4 separate regions of the Homo sapiens genome follow, and regions 1, 3 and 4 are each reported to be linked to region 2. The links are microRNA targets in miRTarBase. Many come from high-throughput screens and were not tested one by one. Region 2 holds a microRNA gene; each other region holds the end of a gene's coding sequence.
Evidence for each region. The annotated mature microRNA hsa-miR-4795-5p reads AGAAGUGGCUAAUAAUAUUGA and lies in region 2 at 1,564-1,584, opposite strand. An mRNA with a match to its seed (bases 2 to 7 or 8) in the 3' UTR can be bound and repressed. Matches are read on the target gene's strand: a 7mer-m8 pairs with bases 2 to 8, a 7mer-A1 pairs with bases 2 to 7 and ends in A, and an 8mer does both.

Region 1 (5,203 bases), not on the chromosome of region 2:
TCAAAGATTTACTCCTTTTGGGAAGTAGCCTACACGTAAATTCCAAATGGCTTCCAATACTGCAGCCTGCTGATGCCACACTAGTACACCACTATTTCTTTCTAGCTCTGTATCATAACATAGACTTCACCAGGTCCATTTCACAGACAAAATGTTAGGGTTCAAGTTTATTTAGTTTTTATTTTTTTTATTTTTTGAGACGGAGTCTTGCTCTGTCACCCAGGCTGCAGTGCAGTGGCGCAGTCTCAGCTCACTGCAAGCTCCGCCTCCTGGGTTCACGCCATTCTCCTGCCTCAGCCTCTCCGAGTAGCTGGGACTACAGGCGCCCGCCACCACGCCCGGCTAATTTTTTTGTATTTTTAGTAGAGACGGGGTTTCACCGTCTCGATCTCCTGACCTCATGATCCACCCGTCTCGGCCTCCCAAAGTGCTGGGATTACAAGCGTGAGCCACTGCGCCCGGTCTTCAAGTTTAAAATTATACATACTATGCACCTTTAAAACTTGATGAGGCTGTCTTCTTTTGACAAATGAGAAACCTAATATTCTACAAGATTGAGTGATGTGGCAGAGACAAGAAGTGAACCACCCCTCCCCTCTCCATCTGGGCTTTTGCTGGTGGATGCTTCCCAGTCTTTATGTAAAGTACTTTAAACTAAATATTGGGCTGCTCCCTAATGGTGTCTCCAAATGTCAAAAGATGAAGATGAATGAAAGTTTGTGAATGCAGGCATCTTTGATATCAAATTAAGGTGAGACTGAAGCTGGTTTCCCTCAGAGAGGACACATGTCGAACTCAAGAAGGCTTACCGGAAGCTCGAGCTTGCAGCACCACACCAGCTCATGACCATCTCTGCCACCAACTGTAAGCACATGCACCAAGCTTTATGAACACCTGAGAGAACACAGTGCCCTTCACGACCCAGCAGCCAGCCCTCCAAAAAAGTATGGCTATTTTTTCTTTTCCAGATAGACCTAAGGGTCAAAGAATTCTACACGTGGTCTAAAATGAATGACGTGTGAAACACCCAGCCCGCCAGAGAAGCATCTTGCTGCAGCTCCCCAGCAAGACTGCCTGTCAACTGAGCAGACCGCTCCATTAACACAAGGCGGCTCAGATTCAGCATCACATGACCTTCTTCTGTGAGCAAGCCAGGAATTCAGTCTGGAGAAACACTAAGAAGTTAAACCAAGAAAGTTATTAGAGAGCAACTCTTGGGAAGCTGGGACAGTTAATTTGAGAGAAGCAGGGTGTCAGAGTCTGACCTCAGCCTCGTTCTGTGAATTTAGGAGAGTCTTCAATGAAGTGACAGTCACAGTTAAGTTTTAAAGTAAAAAATACACTTCAGGTTGCATGTGCTCCTGGCTGCTGAAAGAACAATGGATTCTAAGCAAAAATGGAAATCCTAAACCAGAAACTAGATCCCCTCACAGCCCCCACTGTCCTTTGGATGGTTCTTTAAATGCTCTGTGGTCATACTGAGCTAGTCTACTTTCAGGAAAATTTGGTGACTTTTCATTTTTAGCTGAAGAAGTTATCTTCTCAAAACAACCTCCCCCAAAATATTCTGAGGCGAAGATGACCCTAAAGCTTCATTAGGATATAACAATGAAATGCATTATCCTCAATGCAGTCATTTATTATCATCACCAAAATCAGAGTTCACCAGATAAACTTTAAAAATCTAAGTATTTAGATCTCCCTTAATTTTCTGTACAATCCTTTAGAATTACACATATACGAGAAAGATCTGCTGTTCAACCAAAAGGGAAACCAACACTTGAAAAATCAGACAAAAACTGATACTACATTGTCTTCTGAACACATATTTTCCAACGAACTAGAAAGTGGCCTCCTTACAATTACACTCAAATTAAAACTTACTTGTGTCTTTAAAAGCCTATTTTTAAAGGAAGACAAACCATTTATTCTTTTAAAAGCCAAACATCTACATTTCTAAAGACAAATCTTCCATATTCTTCTCCTTAAAGGAAGACAAACTAGTCTTCTAAAGGCCAAATATCTACATTTCTGAAGTCAAATCTCCACTAGCCCAAGTTCTGGTATGGAACTGAGCTGGCTGGCATGGAAGTACTACCACCCTACTTAGCTTCCATTACAGTCTTTTCACCATCTCAAGGGCTATTAAATGACTGAAATCAGATATCTGAGTTCCATTAGGGGTCTCTTAGGCCTGAGAAAGTTGAGAGGCTTTAGCATCACAACACTCTTAACATTCCCCTTTCTGCAACCACCCGTGAGCTGGAGTGAGCTCACCATAGGAGACCCTTGTTAAGTCCTTCATCATGGCAGAGGGTTAAACAAGGCTCAAGTTTTTACAGCTTTGAATTCCCTTGCTTTTTACACCACTTAAAGAAGCCTGTAAGTAGCTTGCTGAGACTAAAACAAAACAAAGCAAAAGGGCTGGGGCACGGAACAGAACCTGTTAACATCGAGGTGGCTAGGGGTGCAAACCTGTTGGTAGAAGATCCCAGTGTTCATCTTACTTCTTGAGGAGGAGAGTTTTTAGGGAAAGCTTGTCTATCATCTGCTACTTTGACTCCAGTTCAGGGCACTTCCCTCCCCTCCCCGCTTTTTTTCTAACCAGCTAGAGAGAATAAGGAAGAACTACTATGGGGGTTCAAGCCATTTAAGAAATGAATCTAGGCCGGGCACGGTGGCTCACGCCTGTAATCCCAGCACTTTGGGAGGCTGAGGCGGGCGGATCACAAGGTCAGGAGATCGAGACCATCCTGGTGAACACAGTGAAACCCCATCTCTACTAAAAATTAAAAAAAAAAAAAAATTAGCCAGGCGTGGTGGCGGGCGCCTGTAGTCCCAGCTACTCAGGAGGCTGAGGCAGGAGAATGGCGTGAACCTGGAAGGTGGAGCTTGCAGTGAGCCGAGATCGCGCCACTGTACTCCAGCCTGGGAGACAGAGCAAGACTCCATCTCAAAAAAAAAGAAAAAGAAAAAGAAAAAAAAAGAAATCAACCTAGCTCTGTAACCTTGGGCAAACTACTTAACCTCTCTGGGCTACCTGCTTGCCCATTTGTCAGTATACCTAGTTGCATGGTACATATTTCAGCCTACTGCAGTTTCACATGCTTTAGTGCATTTGATTCTTGTAATAACCCTGTGAAGTAATGGGGGCTATTATCCTCATTTTATAAAACTGGAAGTTGAGACTCAGAGACCTAAGACACAACCATAGTGGTAGCAAGAAAGTGGTAGAAGTGGGCCTGAACCTCAATTCCTGATTTCAATCAAATGCTTTTTCTTACATCACACTGCCTGATCTTTGTGGTTCTGAGAACATTAAAATGCCACAATTGAAAAAATCTCCATCACCATTCACAACCTGTGTCACTCTATGTTTGGAAACTGCTGATATCATTTATAGTTTGGTGAACAAGCAGAAGCACACGAGTAAGTACTCCCTCATACAAACACCTGTGTTTTCAAATTAATTTTTTGGCTTTTTTTTTTTTTTTTTCTAAGAGATAGGTTCTTGCTTTACCACCCAGGATGGAGTGCAGTGGCACGATCATGACTCACTGCAGCCTCAAACTCCTGGGCACAAGGGATTCTCCTGAGAAGCAGGGGCTACAGGTATGTGTCACCACACCCAGCTAATTTTTTAAGTTTTCTGTAGAGACAGAGTCTTGCTATGTTGCCCATGCTGGTCTCTGACTCCTAGCCTCAAGCAATTCCTGCTTCAGTCTCCCATAGTTGTGGGATTATAGGCGTGAGACACTGTGCCTGGCCTCTTACTTTTTTAAAGGTTTAGCTCTTGAGTGCTAGCTAATAAAGATGCTTAGTACTAAGATAAAGAATAATTAACAGATTTTGCTTCTGTTAGAAATATTCATATATGAAAGAGTCTAGAATACATATTCTGCAGGCAAATTAGAAGTACCTGCCGATCATTACTTTACAAGGAAAAAAAGATGAAGAACATGTAACACTGAAGATTGACAAAAGCGGTGACGGACCAGAGAGTCTTTCTAGGAAAGCCCTTTGGCTGGGATCCTTAACCCTGAAGTACGACCCAAGCTTCCCATCCCTCTCCTTCTCTTCTCATCCATCCATCAAGTAGGGCAACCTGCGTCACAGGCCAGTGAGGACAACTGGATGCAAAAAAAGAATGCGATCTCTGAATGCGTACGTGTTCTCTTCACGAGCAGTAGATTTCTGAACTATCAGCAAACTGTGCGGGGGAAGGGGGGCACCTGACAGCCCTATTTGGTTTGCAGGTAAAACCCTGAGATGGAACTGGCTGGGAGCCATATTATGTGCACCACTGCTCCATGGTTTTCAGTGTGGAATAAAGTTCAAAGTAAAGAGAAGACAGGCTCCCCCAGAGATCCCCCCTCATCCCCATATTGTTATTTTTATGCCATAGCATTCGGCACTGACCTGCTTTGCCCACTTCCCCTTCCTCAGTGATCCTTCAGCCTGGCACCCAGCTCTGAGATGAGGCCTGCTTAGCACCAGTGAAGTTCCCCACGTTCAAACCAACAACATTCTGTGTGGAGATGAGGGAATCAAAGTTAAAATCCAACCCATCAGCATCCATGAGTTCACTACGGATAATGGACTCCATGTCACATTCCAAGCTCCCATTGAACATGTCCAGGTCCAAGTCGCTGGGGAACTTCTCATGGCCCATGACGGGCAGGTTTGCACTAGTTGAGTACAAGGAGGAGCCTGAGAGAGAGTCCGAGAGGGTTTGCATAGACTGGCTGACAGGAGACTGCTGCTGGTGTTTGGCTGACCCAAGGCTGCTGGACTCACTCAAGCCCATGTTGCTGACAGAATTCGACAAGGCACGGCTGCCACCAAGAGCGCCCTGGGTTTGGTGCTGGTGGTGGAGCAAGTTCTGATTGACCAAACTTCCCTGGTTAGGCTGGGCAGCAAAGGACATCATCGGATCATTGCGAAGCATCACGTTCCGGCGGGAATTCTGGGCAGACACAGCGGTGCTGGCCTGAGACATCAAGGGGTCCGACTGTGTCATCATGACATCGCTGTGGCTAAGTGAGTCCGAAGTGAGCAGGTCCTGGAGTGTCTGGTTACCATAGTGTGACATGGAAGAGAAGGTAGCTGGCTTGTTCTCTTGGATGGTCTGCATGGGAGACTGGCGTAGGGAGTTCAGAGATGAAGGTCCGAACACCGTGCTGTTAAAGGAGCTGGTTGGGGA
Region 2 (5,191 bases):
TTAGAGGTGGGAACTTTAGGATGTGATTAAGTCATGAGGGTGGAGCCCTCATGAATGAGATTAGTTCCTTTATAAAACAGGTGTGAGGGAGCTGCCTACCGCCCTTTTACCCTTCTGTCCTTCTTGCCATGTGAGGATACAGCATCTCTTTCTTCTTGAGGATGCAACAGCAAGGTACCATCATGGAAGCAGAAAGCAGCTCTCACCAGAAACAAAACCTCTGGGTTCCTTGATCTTGGACTCCCCAGCCTCCACAAATGTGAGAAATAAATTTCTACTGTTTATAAATTACCCAGTCTGTGGTATTTTGTTGTAGCTGCACAGAGGGGCTAAGACATTACGTGCCAAGCACTACTTTGAATGTTTAACATATTAACTCATTTAATCCTTGCAACAGCTATTAGGTTGGTGCAAAAGTAACTGTGGTTTTCGCCAATTACTTTTGTACCAACCTAATATATGAAAGGTGGGCTAATGTTATCTCTATCACATATGTGATGAAAGAAACACGGAGAGCTTCAGTGAACTGGCCTAGGTCTTAAAACTTAAAAGTCACAGAATTGGTCACAGAACTGGGCAGTCTGTGTCCAGAATCAGCACTCTCCAATGTTATGCTATCTTTCTTCAAAAGCTGAACAAGGAGAAGAATGCACCCATTCAAATTATAACCCGAGGTACCCAAAGATGAAAAAATGGCAAATATTTCAGTTTCAGAGGAGGAAACTATGTTATGAAATACTCCAGAAAACAACATATATTTAAGTGTATCATGCCCTTTAAATAAGGAGCGATATAATAATACAAAATGTGTACAGGAGAAATGTGGCCACCAACTAATCAGAATGGACTCTAGCTAGACTGGTGCAATCAGCTGAATATCAGCCTTCTTCAAACTATGGGAGAACAAGCTATTAGAGTACTGAGTTTAAATAGTAAATATTTCTATTTTGTCTTTATTGTAATGAACAAGCCCTGTCTTTAGCTCCTGCTGTGCACTTTTGGAGGGTCTTCCATATGGTTGCTCCTAAGTATTTTGGCATTTTCCCAACTGTTACAATTGGGTCAGTGGGGGGGATTGTATAGGAGTAATAAAACAAGGGTGACTGCAGCAGGGAGGAGTACGATTACTACACACATAACAGCTTATTGCCTCTCATGCGTTCAAGCACAGCTCTATGCCATTCATTACAACAGACAGCCAGGGCAAACTGCCATAGAGCTCACTCCAGAAAAGGCCCGGTCTTGAGTGCAGAGACTAAATCTTCTCACTTACATGTCTTCCTAATGTTTCCTTACTTCATCTTCCCATATCGAGAATAACTTGAGGAGAAGCAAAACAATTATATCTTGCATATTACTACGTCATTCTTAAGAAAGTTTTCTTGAACAGACTCTCAGCTAACTTTTAGCAGCAGCAGCAGCATTATCAGTGGCTATGAGGGCTTGGATATCTCAGGAGGGGAAAAATGGGAAAGGCTGGCCTGATTATCATAAATAATAATCCTTGAGACATGATTCATAAATCCAGAAGTGGCTAATAATATTGACATTATTGTTATAGTGTCAATATTATTAGCCACTTCTGGATTTCTTCCATATCAGAGATAATATTTATGAAAAAAAAAATGCTACCATTATTTTTATCCTGTGGAAGGCAGTGTTGCTTTAAACAGTAGAGACTATATACAGGTACGCACGCATAGGTTGTATTTTCCATTTTATACATGCAAGGATTCTTTAAATAATTCATTACATTTTTTCTTTAACATGATATGCAGTTTTTCACAAAAAGCCCAAATAAACGGCTGTGAGGAATTCTAATAGGATCACCGTATAGCCATGACACTTTATGATTCATGATTTACAAGAAATTAAGAAATAGAGCTGGAGACATTTAGACCAGCCTACAAATTTGTGTGTGTGTGTGTGTGTGTGTGTGTGTGTGTGTGTTTTAATGTTTCCAGGCAAGAACCTTAAACAAAAAGTGTAGCATTAAAAAACTTCCCTTCGTCCTCGAGACCCCCCCAACTCTAGACACTGGATCCCCGGAGACCCACGCTGGGTCGTCGGAGTCTGGAGCCGGGGGCGGCAGGTGAGCGGCTAGGGTCCTGCAGGGGTCTGCGCGGTGCGGGGGAGGTCGCCGAGTCAGTCAGTGCCGAAAGGACCGCGAACTCCAGGGGCCAACAATCACCGGGTACGGAACTCAACGTTTCCGCCAGTTCCTGGATTACTCGAGTAAAAACAAACAAACAACAACAACAACAACAACAAAAATACTAACAGCAATGGGACCGTAATAAATCAACTCGGAGTGGGTACAGGCGGTTCCGGGACAACCCACACTTAGTCTAGGAGCCCGGAGATCCCTCATCCAGCTTTCCCCGGGGCAAGGGGTGAAGCGCTAAGCAAGGCTGATCACTGTCCTCAATCATCACCCAACCCGCGCACAGAAGCCGTGGCCCCACGCTCTCCTATCCCCGCCAGCTCCAGACTCGCCCCGCTGCCAACTCCCGGTGCAGGAGGAACTGGCAGCCGCAGACGTGAGGAAAGCGGCCGCGGCTTCAAACTCCGTAGTGCGCAGGCGCCACACAACGCGCAGGCGCCGCCTAGAAGTGACTTCTCCAAAAAGTGTGTTAGTTCCCGGTCACCTGAGCTCCGGGTGACGCGGCTGCGGTAGCTGCGGATACAAGCCTTCCGCGGGTCCTGCCTGGCGACCCCGACCTCCTCCTGCTGTCTCTCCGCTCCGCCACCCCGAACCCGCCAAGGTCCTGTCCTTTTCCTCCTGTCCTTTGCCAGCGTTGGGCCGGACCGGGCCGAGCCGGGCCGCCCGGGCGCAGTCTTTAACCATGGCGTCCCTCTTCAAGAAGAAAACCGTGGATGGTGAGTTCCAGGCCGGGCTGAAGGGGCCCAGCTCTGCGTTTTCTCGGCGTCTTTCGAGGCCTGCTGGCCGCGATTCTGCCTACTGTCCCTGGAGGCGGGGCTGGATCAAGTGGTCCCACAGGTGACCGCCCTCGCGGCACCACTTCTCTGCCTCCCTCTTGCTTCTGACTCACCTCACCTTAGGCTCACCTAGGCAGTCTGGTTGCTTCCCTATCCTCACGATTCCCCCACCCTCGGGTTTTCCTCAGCAGGATCCTGAGCGTTTCGAGGAGGCTAGCTGGCCCTTGAGTGTCAATAAACTTGGAAATCTGATGGATTTCTTGTTGGTTTCCTCTGCTTCGATTGTTGCTCTTCAGTTGGGCGATATACTACTTGTAGGCATCCATACAGGAAACTGGCAGTCTCGGAATGGGGAGGGAGGGGATAACAGGCTCCAGTTAGGAAATGAAGTTGGGTCTGGGTCAGTTGCTTCTTTAAGAACACCCCATCAGTAAAGAGATGTGAAACAAATGCTTTTTTGATTAACCCCAGTAGAAAAATAAACCCAAGGGAAGTGCCCAGATTTAGTTTTCATAATGGATTTTTCTCCCTTATGATTATTTTTTGCCAACTAAAGAAAGAGATGGGGTATATATTGTCTTCATAGAAGTTTAACATGTAAAGATAATTGTGTTGTTTCCCGCATTTAGCTTAATATCATCTTAAGCGGGGAAAAAAGTGAATGTAAAGGAATGTACAAGTTTTATGGTGCTCATATGCGATGCCTATAATGTGTTTATATAACACTTGATGTTTTCATTGATTGCTACCAGGAATTAAATTCATTCAAGTTATTTAAAAATTGTGTTCCCCATTATATGTTTAGTCTAGGTTGTTGCTGGTTCAACCAAAGAATCACTTCTTTGTAAGGGTCTAATTCTGCCACAAAAGGAGCAGTGGTAGCTAGACAGTGATTGGTACAAATAGGGTGCTCAGTCCAGACCTGGACGTAACTCCTTCATTCCTTTGTGTTGACTATTCCAATGCCAGCAAAATTATTTTGGGGAGGATAACAAAGAAGTCATCTCTGCTCTGCTGCTGTACACTTCATTTCAACACATAATCTACTTTACCTCTAATTTATCAGATGACATAATACATTTTTCCTTACTCTGGGTGACTGAACATTTTTTTGATTTATTGACTTTTTATTAAGTACCATTTGCAATACCTGGAATAACTACCAACTTCGTATATTAGGTGATACAGTGATGTGAAATGGATTTTATGTGTGCTTTTCATGAGAATGCTGCTTAATCTTTAATATGGCACTTTATTTTTTCAGTGTTTTAGCTGCCACTGTTGTGAGCTTCACTTATTTTACAGTACTCCAGGGAGTGGGGGTGGGGGAACGATTTATTTTCTTTTTGCTTGAGTTTTATATAGTTACAGTTTTTTTTTGTTGTTTAGTTTTATATAGTGAGAATTTACTAAATGGAGAAAAAATGGTTTCATCTCCTTTACTGTGATGTTACAATTAGAGTTAATTTTTTTTTAACAATAAAAGCCAAGCATACTAGTTTTAATCGCCTAATACCTGTCAAATATTTTCAAAGACATAAATCTCAGTTCTGTGCTTCCTGGTGCTTTTGGAAATTTAGTGACTATTGTACTTGAAGTGTAGAGGAGAGAAAAAAAGACAATGGGGATGTGCAATGAGTGTTTAACTGTATACTCATTTGCAGTTAATTCTTCCAAGAAATAATGTTTTTGCTGAATAGACTTATTTGTAAAAGAGTCTTAAGGACTCTTGCTAGGAACTATGCCACTAAATTAACCATATGTGCAATTTCCAAATGTAAATTTGGCCAGCAGGTACATTTACTATAAACTACCAAGATGCATACTTGATGTTTTCTTATATTATTGTGTCAATTCCAGTCATTTACTGACATCTTAATAAATAGATCTGTATTTTCGTTATTTTGATATAGAGCTTTACTTTTTTTATTCCCTGTTTTATTGAAAGGAAGTTTTTTTTTGTTTTGTCTAAAAGGTGACAGCATTCTTCTTGGTAATGAGGCTGTATATTATGAATATGAAGTTTAATGTATTTTTATGTCTCTCAGATCGTTGGATTGATCATGAGCTCTTTTATTGTATGCTGACTTTTAAATCTGTTCCAGCAGTAATGAAATTCTGATATATAAGGGAAACATGTACCTGCCTATAGATCTGGGGAATAATTGAATCTTTTTTCCTGTTTGGATTGGCTGGAAGAGTTATATACTGTATCATTAAAGACTACTGCACATGTAAATTTAAAAGGAAG
Region 3 (5,000 bases), not on the chromosome of region 2:
GGAGGCTGAAGCAGGCGGATCACCTGAGGTTGGGAGTTCAAACTAGCCTGGCCAACATGGTGAAACTCCTGTCTCTACTAAATATACAAAATTAGCTGGGCATGGTGGCACATGCCTGTAATCCCAGCTACTTGGGAGGCTGACGCAGTAGAATTGTGTGAACCCGGGAGGCGGAGGTTGCGGTGAGCCGAGATGACGCCATTGCACTCCAGCCCGGGCAACAAGAGCGAAACTCCATCTCAAAAAAATAAATAAATAAAATAAAAAATTTTGTAGCAACAGAATCGCTAAAATAACAGGTGACAGTAGACGATATATAGTATGATCTCAGTAAATAATTGGTTAGGTTTGTGAAGTAGAGGGATTTGAAAGACCATGTTCTGGTGGTGGTTTTTGTGTGTGTGTGTGTGTGTGTGTGTGTGTGTGTGATTTCAGTGTCCCTATTCAGGAATATTGAACATCTTTATTTCTTTGAGGATTTGGCTAAAAGGATATTAAGTTTTACCAGTCACTACTGATAATTCTTGTCTTTCATTCTCAGAAACATTGCAGCGGCCCGTGTGGAACATAAACAGAGAACTAGGCCTGCCTCATCCTCCTTTTTCCCAGCAGCCAGTCCATGAGTCACCACAACTTCATCAAAATGAGGGCCTGGCAGGGAGAGAGCCAGACTGTTCTGCTTCTTCCATGTCCTGCCACAGGTTACAGGATCATGCTTTTGATTTTAGTAGGACTCGGAACATTCAAGATGGTAGTGAGGGCACATGAAACTCACTTCAGGATGAAATCTGGGCAGAGACTTATTAATTAATTTTGCATTTACTACCTCAGAGCTCAGAAGAAACTCCGAAGTCAGCATTTGCTTTACTCTTTCTTTATGATTGCATCTGACCGCACCAAGGTGGGCCATGCGTTGTTTGGTCTTATACCTGATGAAGAAATGGCAACAGCTGACAGAAATGGGTACAGCTCATCAAAAATGTGCAGCACCGGCAGAGGGAAGATACGGGGCAAATGTGCTTCCTGATGCTTCCATGGGGATGTGCCCTGGTGTGCATCTGCTTGTCAGGAAGAGTCACATTGCTGCTTAACATGCTGGATTGCCCTAGTCTTCAGAATGGTCCTGAGAAAACATCACTACTTCGATGTTCTACTTTGCTTTCCAAGGAGCAAAAATAACTTTGGAGCCTTCTGGGAAGTGTGCCTGGGATTCTTCAGTGGTTTCAGGCAGATAGTTGAGACTGGGGCTTTGATATTCAAGGTCTTTGGCAAGAATCCCAGGCTTGACCAACTGGTACCAGGTCAAAGATTTTTGTATTCTTGTGAATTTTTTTTTTTGTCCCTATTGCCCAGGGATGTCATTGTAAATATATGTGCATTTATAAATAATTTTTGTATTCATTGACCATATGTGTTGGCTGCAATGTAAATATTTTTGATATGCCAAAATTATATGTAATATCCAGTTATAATATTGACAAGTAGCTTCTCAGATCACAGATTTTAAATAACTCAATTTAGTGAGATCTAAAAATTTTATTTAAAGTATAAAAACTGTGGCTCACACCTGTAATCCCAGCATTTTGAGAGGCTAAGGTGGGAGGATTGCTTGAGGCCAGGAATTTGAGACCAGGCTGGGCAACATGGTGAGACCCTGTGTCTGCAAAAAAATAAATTAAAAAAATAGGTGGACATTGTGGCATGCTGCTGTAGTCCTAGCTACTTGGGAGGCTGAGGTGGGAGGGTCACTTGAGCCCGGGAAATCAAGGCTGCAGTGAGCTGTGTGAAGCCACTGCATCCCAGCCTGGGTGACAGAGTGAGGCCCTGGCTCAAAAGTAAAATAAATAAATAAAAAGTTTTAAAAACTTACTTGTTAAGAAGTGTATCTATAGAGGCAGCTACTTAGTGATTGTATACACATAAACACAGTCTTGGTGTAATTAACCGCCTTCTTCATGCCTAGAGGTTCATACTTCTGGTCATTTGCCATCTGTTTAAAAGTGCTAGGTGATACTCCCTTTCTAACATAAAAAGCTTGTTCTTTCAGAGCCTGGCAGTCCTGTCACAGCTGTATGCACCTAGAGGAAAACTTGTTTGGAAATTCCTTTCATTTCCTCCCCCTCTCCCTCCTTCCCTCTTTTTTTTTACTGAAACAGAAATTGATTGAGGAAGGTTCAGTCATTCCTTCAGGAACCAATGAGTTAGATCGGGTTGTTACTTTATGTATAATGAACGCTTCAAAAACTGGAGGCTGATTTAAAGATTGCAGAACTTGAGTCAGACTCATAAGCAGTACTGTGACATGAATTGGAGCCAGAACAGTTGCTGATATCAGAACCATCTCTTTCATTCTGTGACTTTGCTCTTGCCATGTTCTGACTGGGGTGAGCCGCTAGGATACAAATCACTATCACTGTCCATATTTGAGTCTGCAAATCTTGTCATTGTCTGCTTTAATGCTCTTTGAGTTGCAACAGGTGTATTATTTAAATGAGTATTTGAAATTCTGTGAACAGGAATTCTTTTGGTAGTGAAATAGGTGCTCACACCTGCTTGCTCAGAATGTGAAAATATTATTTCTGAGTTCTCTTTGTTCACTTTCTAAAGTGACTGTTGTTTGGTGTTGGAGATGTTAACTGGGTTCTATTAGGTGTGCTATATCTTGGCAAATATTCCCCATGATGAACTCTTCCTACTATCACAATCAGGACTATGACTGGATTTCTCAGTCTCAGTGCCCCAGATTCACCATTTCTGATTGTGTCTGGAGAACGTTTTCCTGGAAAGGCATTCCATGTTCCAAAAGCTACAAAAACATGCCACTTTGCAACTATGGGTCAGTTATTTGCTCTCTCAATGTCTCATGTTGCTGAGTTCTAGAAAATCTCTGTCTCATTTACCAGGGGTCATTCAAAAGTCTGAGATGTATATTATCATGAAATATTTGTGAAATTTCTCACCATGAATTTGGAGGGAACCTACTTTTATTTCTCGCTCTGGTTCTCCATTGGTCTGGGCTCCTGCTTCTCAGTCTTCTCTGACCTCTGGTAAGTGGAACTTTCATTAATACTTCTGTCGCACTTTGTACCTGACCTAGGTGGCCTTGCAAATGTTGACTCAGATTGTGGATTTTCCACTTTCCTCTGTTTTCCCTATTTTCTCCCCTGGGAAATCTTGCAGATGATGCATATTCATTTTCTGTATTCAGCCTTCCATTATTAAGGATAAAATTGATCCCTACATTGAATCTGAAATTACCACTATATGGATTACTCTGGCTCACTGCTGTCCAAGCTTGGTTTTCTCTTTGCTTACTTCCTGTCATATTTTCAGTTTGCCCAAAAGAGGTAAGCCACTTTATTACAGACCCATTACTAGTGCTAGACGTCATCCACCTCTGTTTTCACCTGATTCTTGTGGGGAATCCTCTTTAATTTGTTGTAACCTTCTCAGCAACTCTTCTGTACTTCACCTATAGTGCCTAGCAAATTGTTATCACTCATAAGCCTGTAATCTTCATCACTCAGGTTATTTGCAAGTAGAAAGCTTCTGGAACCATTTGTCCATCCGACTTCTGCACTGGGCCACATCCATCTTCTTCATTGTCAGAATCTGAGTTTTCTGTCTTGAAGAACAGCTGGAAAGTTGTCTGGCTGTTATGACACAGTATTGAAATACCAGACTGAGTTTCAGTTGTTTCTAGTTGTGTTCACTTTGTGCTTTCTCTGAATGGGAATATCTTCTTTCAGCAAAGTTCTTCATTGACCAGGAAACCAAAGATTGCTTCTTTTCCAAGTTTGTTTTGTTTTTAATCTTTTACCAATGTGCAGTATATCTTAAGAAGGGAAGAGTGCTCTTGGGAGTAGAAGAACATGCAAACATTCTTTTTTCTTTATTATTATTTGAGATGGAGTCCCTCTCGGTCACCCAGGCTGGAGCGCAGTGGCATGATCTTGGCTTACTGCAACCTCCGCCTCCCAGGTTCAAGCAATTCTCTTGCCTCAGCCTCCCAAGTAGCTGGGATTACAGGCACACCACCATTTCCAGCTTTTTTTTTTTTTTTTTTTTTGATATTTTTAGTAGAGATGGGGTTTCACCATGTTGGCCAGGCTGGTCTTGAACTCCTGACCTCAGGTGATCTGCTTGCCTTGGCCTCCCAAAGTGCTGGGATTACAGGCATGAGCCACTTGCCTGGCCCCAAAATTCTTATACTGTAAAGCCTTGTAGTGGTCCTTATTTTTTTTTTTTTGAGACGGAGTCTCGCTCTGTCACCCAGACTGGAGTGCAGTGGCACAATCTCGGCTCACTGCAACCTCTGCCTCCCGAGTTCAAGCCCTTCTTCTGCCTCAGCCTCCCAAGTACCTGGGATTACAGGCATGCACCACCATGCCCGGCTAATTTTATTTGTATTTTTAGTAGAGACGGGGTTTCTCCATGTTGGTCAGGCTGGCCTCGAACTCCTGACCTCAGGTGATCCACCCGCCTCGGCCTCCTAGAGTGCTGGGATTACAGGCGTGAGCCACCGAGCCCGGCCGGTCCTTATTTTATACAAGTGATTAAGCCAAAAATTTTCTTGAATTTCTGATACCAAAGAGCTTTAGGTAAATAACTTCACACTCTAATGCAATGTAATTCTTTCTTTGTGCTTTCAGATTTCCTTACACTTCCTGTCCAGTTCTCTCTTCTAAATCCAATATTACTCACTAGATAATTTCAGCCACTTAAATAAAAATATCTATTTTTAAGTCCTGGTTCAAGGGTTCCAAACTCACATAATTTCTCAACTTTTTGCCAGAAAGTTGAGCATTTATTCATACTTATTTTCAATCCTAAGTGTTCTCCCATGGGCAGCAGCACTTCTTGAGCTGTTTAGTACTGCCACACCTTTTTATGTCTTTACTATGTCAGCCTCTGATCATTTTCACTTTGAACTTCCTAAAGATCACAATTTCCTATCCCTTCAATCTGCGATCCCTCTTCTTCCTTTCTTACTAGATTAT
Region 4 (5,203 bases), not on the chromosome of region 2:
TCTCCCATTTCTCTCTTCCCATTCATTGACATGATTTCAAAAACCTTCCTACTCATATCTTCCTCCAATGTACTTTTTGCAGTCTGTCATCAATCCAAATTATGGTTTTGATCCTGCTTGCTCCCACTTTAAGGGTTTGCTTAGAATGATATACAGCCCTTATTTCTGCCTATCAGTTTTCCAAGGTTTACCAAAATGTCACCCCTTCTATGAAGCCTTCCCTTACATAATTTCTTCTAAGCTCCCAACTTAGTTTGTACTTTTTGATAGCTTATTTGCATTCACTATAGTACCATTTTTTGTTCATCTTTACTAGATGATAAGCTCCCAAGGCTCTCAATTTAATATCCCATAATCATTTAGTAAATATTCAATAGACATTATCAAACTGATCTTAAACTATATAATCAAGATATTAGTTCAACTGGGACAAACACAGGGCTTGGATATTTTTTGGAGAAAGATCAAACTTCAATTTGAATATGAGCAAAGAGAGACTGGACCTGTATAGATTTATACAAGAGACAAAAAGGCTTAAAATCCTTCTAGCCATTTTCTGCCTTCATTGAAACAAAGTAACAATAGCCAATAGTAGACTAGCTTGTACATAAGTGTTCAATAAATGTTTCTTGAATTAAAGAAAAAGTGAATGCTTAAAGTAGTCCTAGAATTATATATTAGTGAGATTTAGAAAGATTTCAGGAGGAGTGGCTCACACCTATAATCCCAGCATTTTGCAAGGCCAAGGTGGGTGGATCACTTGAAGTAAGGAGTTCGAGACCAGCCTTGCCAACATGGTGAAACCCTTCCTTACTAAAAAAATAAAAAATAAATTAAAAAATGAGCTGGGTGTGGTGGCCCATGCCTGTAGTCGCAGCTACTCAGGAGGCTGAGGCAGGAGAATCGTTTGAGGTTGAGAGGCAGAGGTTGCAGTGAGCCAATATCATGCCACTGCACTGTAGGCTGCAAGACTCCATCTCAAAAAATGATGGGAGAACATCTAATACAGAACTTTGAAGACAGGAACAAAAAAAAAACTTTACATAATTTGACATCACTGAACCTGACTTTCTCCCCCCCATTCCTAACATAGTCGATAGTATAACCACTCCACTAATGTTATCTTGAAGGCACAGGCTTAACTAAATATATATTTTTAAAATTCTAACTCTTTGAAAACTGGTAACCAACATATGGATAAAGGACAGCTGTTCAGTTAAATCTATATTTCTAGATTACAGTGAAGAACAAAGGGTAGATGGATTATCCAATTGGCCAAGTAAGTGTGTGCTGAGAGAACGAGAAATATGAGACATTACTGCTACAATGGGTGTATGAAACAAGTTGTAATCAGAAATTCTTGTAAGAAGCTGTTAAAATTGAAGAACTCATTTAAATTTTGGTTTTGGATTCTGTTTTTTAATTTTAAATTTTAATATGGTGGGAGGCTTGGAAAGAAGACATCTAAGACTTTCTAGTGCTTATGGCACTATGTGAACATAGTTTTAAATACTGTTTAAAGCTTGTTGACTTATAGAAAATACGTAAAAGGTACGAAATGCCTTTAAAAAACATAGTATCCAAGCCGGGCGCGGTGGCTCACGCCTGTAATCCCAGCACTTTGGGAGGCCGAGGCGGGTGGATTACGAGGTCAGGAGATCGAGACCATCCCGGCTAACACGGTGAAACCCCGTCTCTACGAAAAATACAAAAAATTAGCCGGGCGTGGTGGCGGGCACCTGTAGTCCCACCTACTCGGGGGGCTGAGGCAGGAGAATGGTGTGAACCCGGGAGGCGGAGCTTGCAGTGAGCCGAGATCGTGCCACTGCACTCCAGCCCGGGCGACAGAGCGAGACTCTGTCTCAAAAAAAAAACAAACAAAAAACGAAAAACAAAAAACAAAAACAAACAAACAAAACCATAGTATCCAATAATCTTTTCTAGAATACAATGTTTCTATCATCTTTCCAGAAAAATGCACTCCCTCCTGGTTATTCTATCATAGCAATCTAAAAAATAATGCCTCAAGTAACAGATAATTATCTCATAAATATGGCATTTTGATAATGTAATAATTAGTAACTGCTTAGAATATCTTCTATCACATGAAAGTGGTCTAGCTCTTACTCGGCTTTTAATAAGATATGACATAATTAGCTTCAGTGCGAGATTTTCTCAAATGTTAAGAAAATAAAAGTGCATCAGCATACAAGGTTTTGGGAAGAACATTTTATTGCTAAGCATATCCTTGAACGAAAATGCAAATATGAACTAAGAAAAGAAAAAAGAAAAAGCAGTAATGTCACAACATCATTAAATAAATTCCTTTAGGTTCTGCTAATAAAACAGGAATATGATAGAAGCTCACATAGAGAATGCACATGTTCCCATAAAATTGTCCAAATAGAAACTTACACTGAAAGGAATATAACAAATGTATTATTACTTAAATTGAAAAAAATGAAAGAAAGCAGGAAATCAATTCACAAGACCTCAAGACTCCAAGAACAGCAATCTTTTACAGACATCGAGATATAATCAACTTCGTATAGGCTGGGCCGTTTAGGTTATCTAAAATCGTGCTTTGATATCTCTTTATAATCCTGTCTTTTTTAATGATAACAAAAAAATTAAACTCTTAACACATTGAAATATTAGATAATGAGGAACACCTCTTTCCACACACATTAGTAAAGGCTACCATTTAGATTGCACTTTTTGCCCCATGTCGTTAAGATATTTTTTCAAAGTCAAATATTCATGCAACTTACAAAGACCAGCAAGAGTAGATTTCTAAATCTAAGCAGCTGATTGATTTTCATCTGTACAAAAGAAATTGTATATCTGACCCTCCAGAGGACACACTTCATTTTTGTGTGAATATTTGTCTTGCTTTGTCTCTTGCTTTTCGGATAGCTATGGCCATACAACCAGTTTATTGTTTTTCTGTACATTGTTTCCTCTTTACAAAAAGAAAAAGACAACCAGAATATAAACCAAACAGAAATAAACAGGAAAAAAACATTTCTTAAAGCAGTATGTACATAGGTGGCTAAGGAATTATACCAGCAAAAATGTAGTAAAATATGTAAACAAAATCTGAAGTTTTTTTTTTTAATTCTCTTTGACACAGTTAACTGTGACAAAACTAAAATTCACACTTTCTTCACATTTTAAGGTTTGCTTTTTTGTTGTTTTGCTATTTTCTTTTAAAACAACATTCTCATTCCATTTTAAGACTTTAACAGATTTCCTGTGTCAGTCATCCCATCAAACATACCATGATAAATATATCTGTATATATATTTATTTATATATATATTATACTATTAAATTCCTTTTGTGTGTGTGTCACAGCAGCTTTATTCATTTATTTGTTTTTAAAAAAGATGGGTGAAGAGAGAAGTGAGCAAATGGAAGGACAGAGTTATCCATAAATGTCAGGCTACAAAATTAAACCACTATGAAAACCATTGTCACATTCGGGGCGGGGAAAGAACTATGTGTTTTGTACTCTGGCATGACATGGTTGGCTTGTGTGACCTTTTGTGGTTCCATCACGAGTTGAACTCCCCTACTGTCTGGTTTGATAACAGACTTTAATATTGTCTTTTTTATTTGCATGCATTTCAATCAGTCACAGATCCAGCCCACCTCCCCTTCCTCTTCCCTAGGAAAGGCTGTTTTAGTTTGTGGGGCTTTCCTCTTTAACACAATTTGGCTGGGTGAATGGACAGGAACAATATTGTTACGTAAAGCCAATAGCTCTGATAACACCAGCCCTAAACCCATCTGTTCCGGGTTTGGGTGGTAAATTCTGAAATTAGATCCTGGGGGACCAGCTTTTCGAATCAATTTATCATCCGTCACATGAATTTTGCTATGTGTTCAGCAAAGCATCTTATAGGAAACAAACAACAGATTCTAGAGACACCATAACCTGATATGTAGAGTGAACACCATGATAGCTTTTGAGTTCATATGGCAATAGTCTCTCTCGCTTTTGTTTTGAGTTTTTTTCCTCTTCTGATGTCCAGTCATTATCAAAAAAATAAACAAAAACCCAAAAGCCATTTTTCCCCTCAGATCATAAAGTTACACGCACACTGGTCAGAACCAGATAAGGGTTGTGGGTTTTTTTTTTTGTTTGTTTTTGTTTTTTGGTGTTTTTTTCTTTTTTAACTTTTTTCTTTTTTTGTTGTTGTAGTTTTGTTTTTTACATAATTAAACAGAAAAAACATGGTTACAGTCAAGCTTCACAAACATTACAGACTCACTTGGAGTTATGGAACAAGTAAGCCATGAAGTCTTCTACCTTTTAGTAAAAGGTCCTCCGGAGAAGGAAGTTTCCAGGCCTGCGGAAGTGGTGGAGCCACCGTCCGGCTCCAGAGCGCTAAGTGTGTGCTTTATGATACAGCAGGGCACAAAACCTTCTGTCTCCCAGCGACCGCTGGGACCTTGCCGCAGCCGTGGCTGAGCTTTAGAGAGAGATGCATCGCTGTGTGTGTGTGTGTCCTTTAAAAAACGGTTTTCCCCACCAGAGTCGTGGTTATATACCCCATTTCATAGTTCCAGCAGTTCTGACATCTGTGAGATCTCACCGTCCAAAGATTCATAGGCGTGGATAGAAATAACTGTGAAAACTCGCGTGTGAGCAGTGTTCGCATGTTTACACGTAATACTCCCTGTCCTTGTTTTTCTGTTTCTTGTGGCCGCTCTTCGAGCTCTGCTGCTTCTCCTTCATGAGCGTGCCGTTGCTCTGGGCGGAGTTGCTGATGTAGTTCCGCGTCTCGTCCACTTGATAGGACCCCTCGTCCCTGTTCCTGTACTTGTACATGGCGTACAGGAGGATCAAGATGCAGAGGGCGGCAGCAGCCACAATGCCGACGACCATCCCTGTTGTGCTGCTCGACTCCCGGATCACCTCTGAGGCCCCCGGAACCCGTCTGATTCCCGGCTCCGTGGGGTTTGCTGTGGGCACATTACGGAACATGGGGGAAGTAATTAGTGGGCTCTTCAGTTTGGTGCTGTCTAGCTCATAGGCAGTGGGCAACGGAAGCAAGACTATATCAGGCTGGGGTTTGAGATCACGGTTATTCATTTTGCCAGCTGGCAATTTGGGCACCATCCCAGACGAGGAGGAAGCTGTGAAGCGGATCAGCTCAGGGGATAAAGATGTGGTAGTAGTCCTACTAGTTTCGGA

Region 1: the mRNA of FOXO3 is a reported target of hsa-miR-4795-5p. The part of its 3' UTR that is shown has no 7-base or 8-base seed match.
Region 3: the mRNA of LRIG2 is a reported target of hsa-miR-4795-5p. Seed matches in the 3' UTR shown: 7mer-A1 at 773-779.
Region 4: miRTarBase lists NRXN3 as a target of hsa-miR-4795-5p. Seed matches in the 3' UTR shown: 7mer-m8 at 4,361-4,367.

The regions. Positions count from the first base shown.
Region 1 is chr6:108,664,106-108,669,308 of GRCh38, reverse strand. It overlaps FOXO3 (forkhead box O3), which reads right to left. Exons shown (of 3, transcript NM_001455.4): 2 at 4,420-5,203. The coding sequence ends at 4,454. Among named protein-coding and RNA genes, the nearest start is that of LINC00222, 85 kb to the left of the region's middle. RefSeq lists a silencer at 4,712-4,912.
Region 2 is chr3:87,224,677-87,229,867 of GRCh38, forward strand. MIR4795 (microRNA 4795) reads right to left here and starts at 1,601; the gene lies at 1,513-1,601. CHMP2B (charged multivesicular body protein 2B) reads left to right here and starts at 2,633. Exons shown (of 6, transcript NM_014043.4): 1 at 2,633-2,880. The coding sequence starts at 2,847. RefSeq lists enhancers at 2,085-2,224, 2,335-2,394, 2,485-2,534, 2,585-2,654, 2,725-2,844.
Region 3 is chr1:113,123,334-113,128,333 of GRCh38, forward strand. It overlaps LRIG2 (leucine rich repeats and immunoglobulin like domains 2), which reads left to right. Exons shown (of 18, transcript NM_014813.3): 18 at 542-5,000. The coding sequence ends at 768. It also overlaps the pseudogene RLIMP2. Among named protein-coding and RNA genes, the nearest start is that of LRIG2, 53 kb to the left of the region's middle.
Region 4 is chr14:79,861,431-79,866,633 of GRCh38, reverse strand. It overlaps NRXN3 (neurexin 3), which reads right to left. Exons shown (of 21, transcript NM_001330195.2): 21 at 1-5,203. The coding sequence ends at 4,670. Among named protein-coding and RNA genes, the nearest start is that of NRXN3-AS3, 230 kb to the right of the region's middle.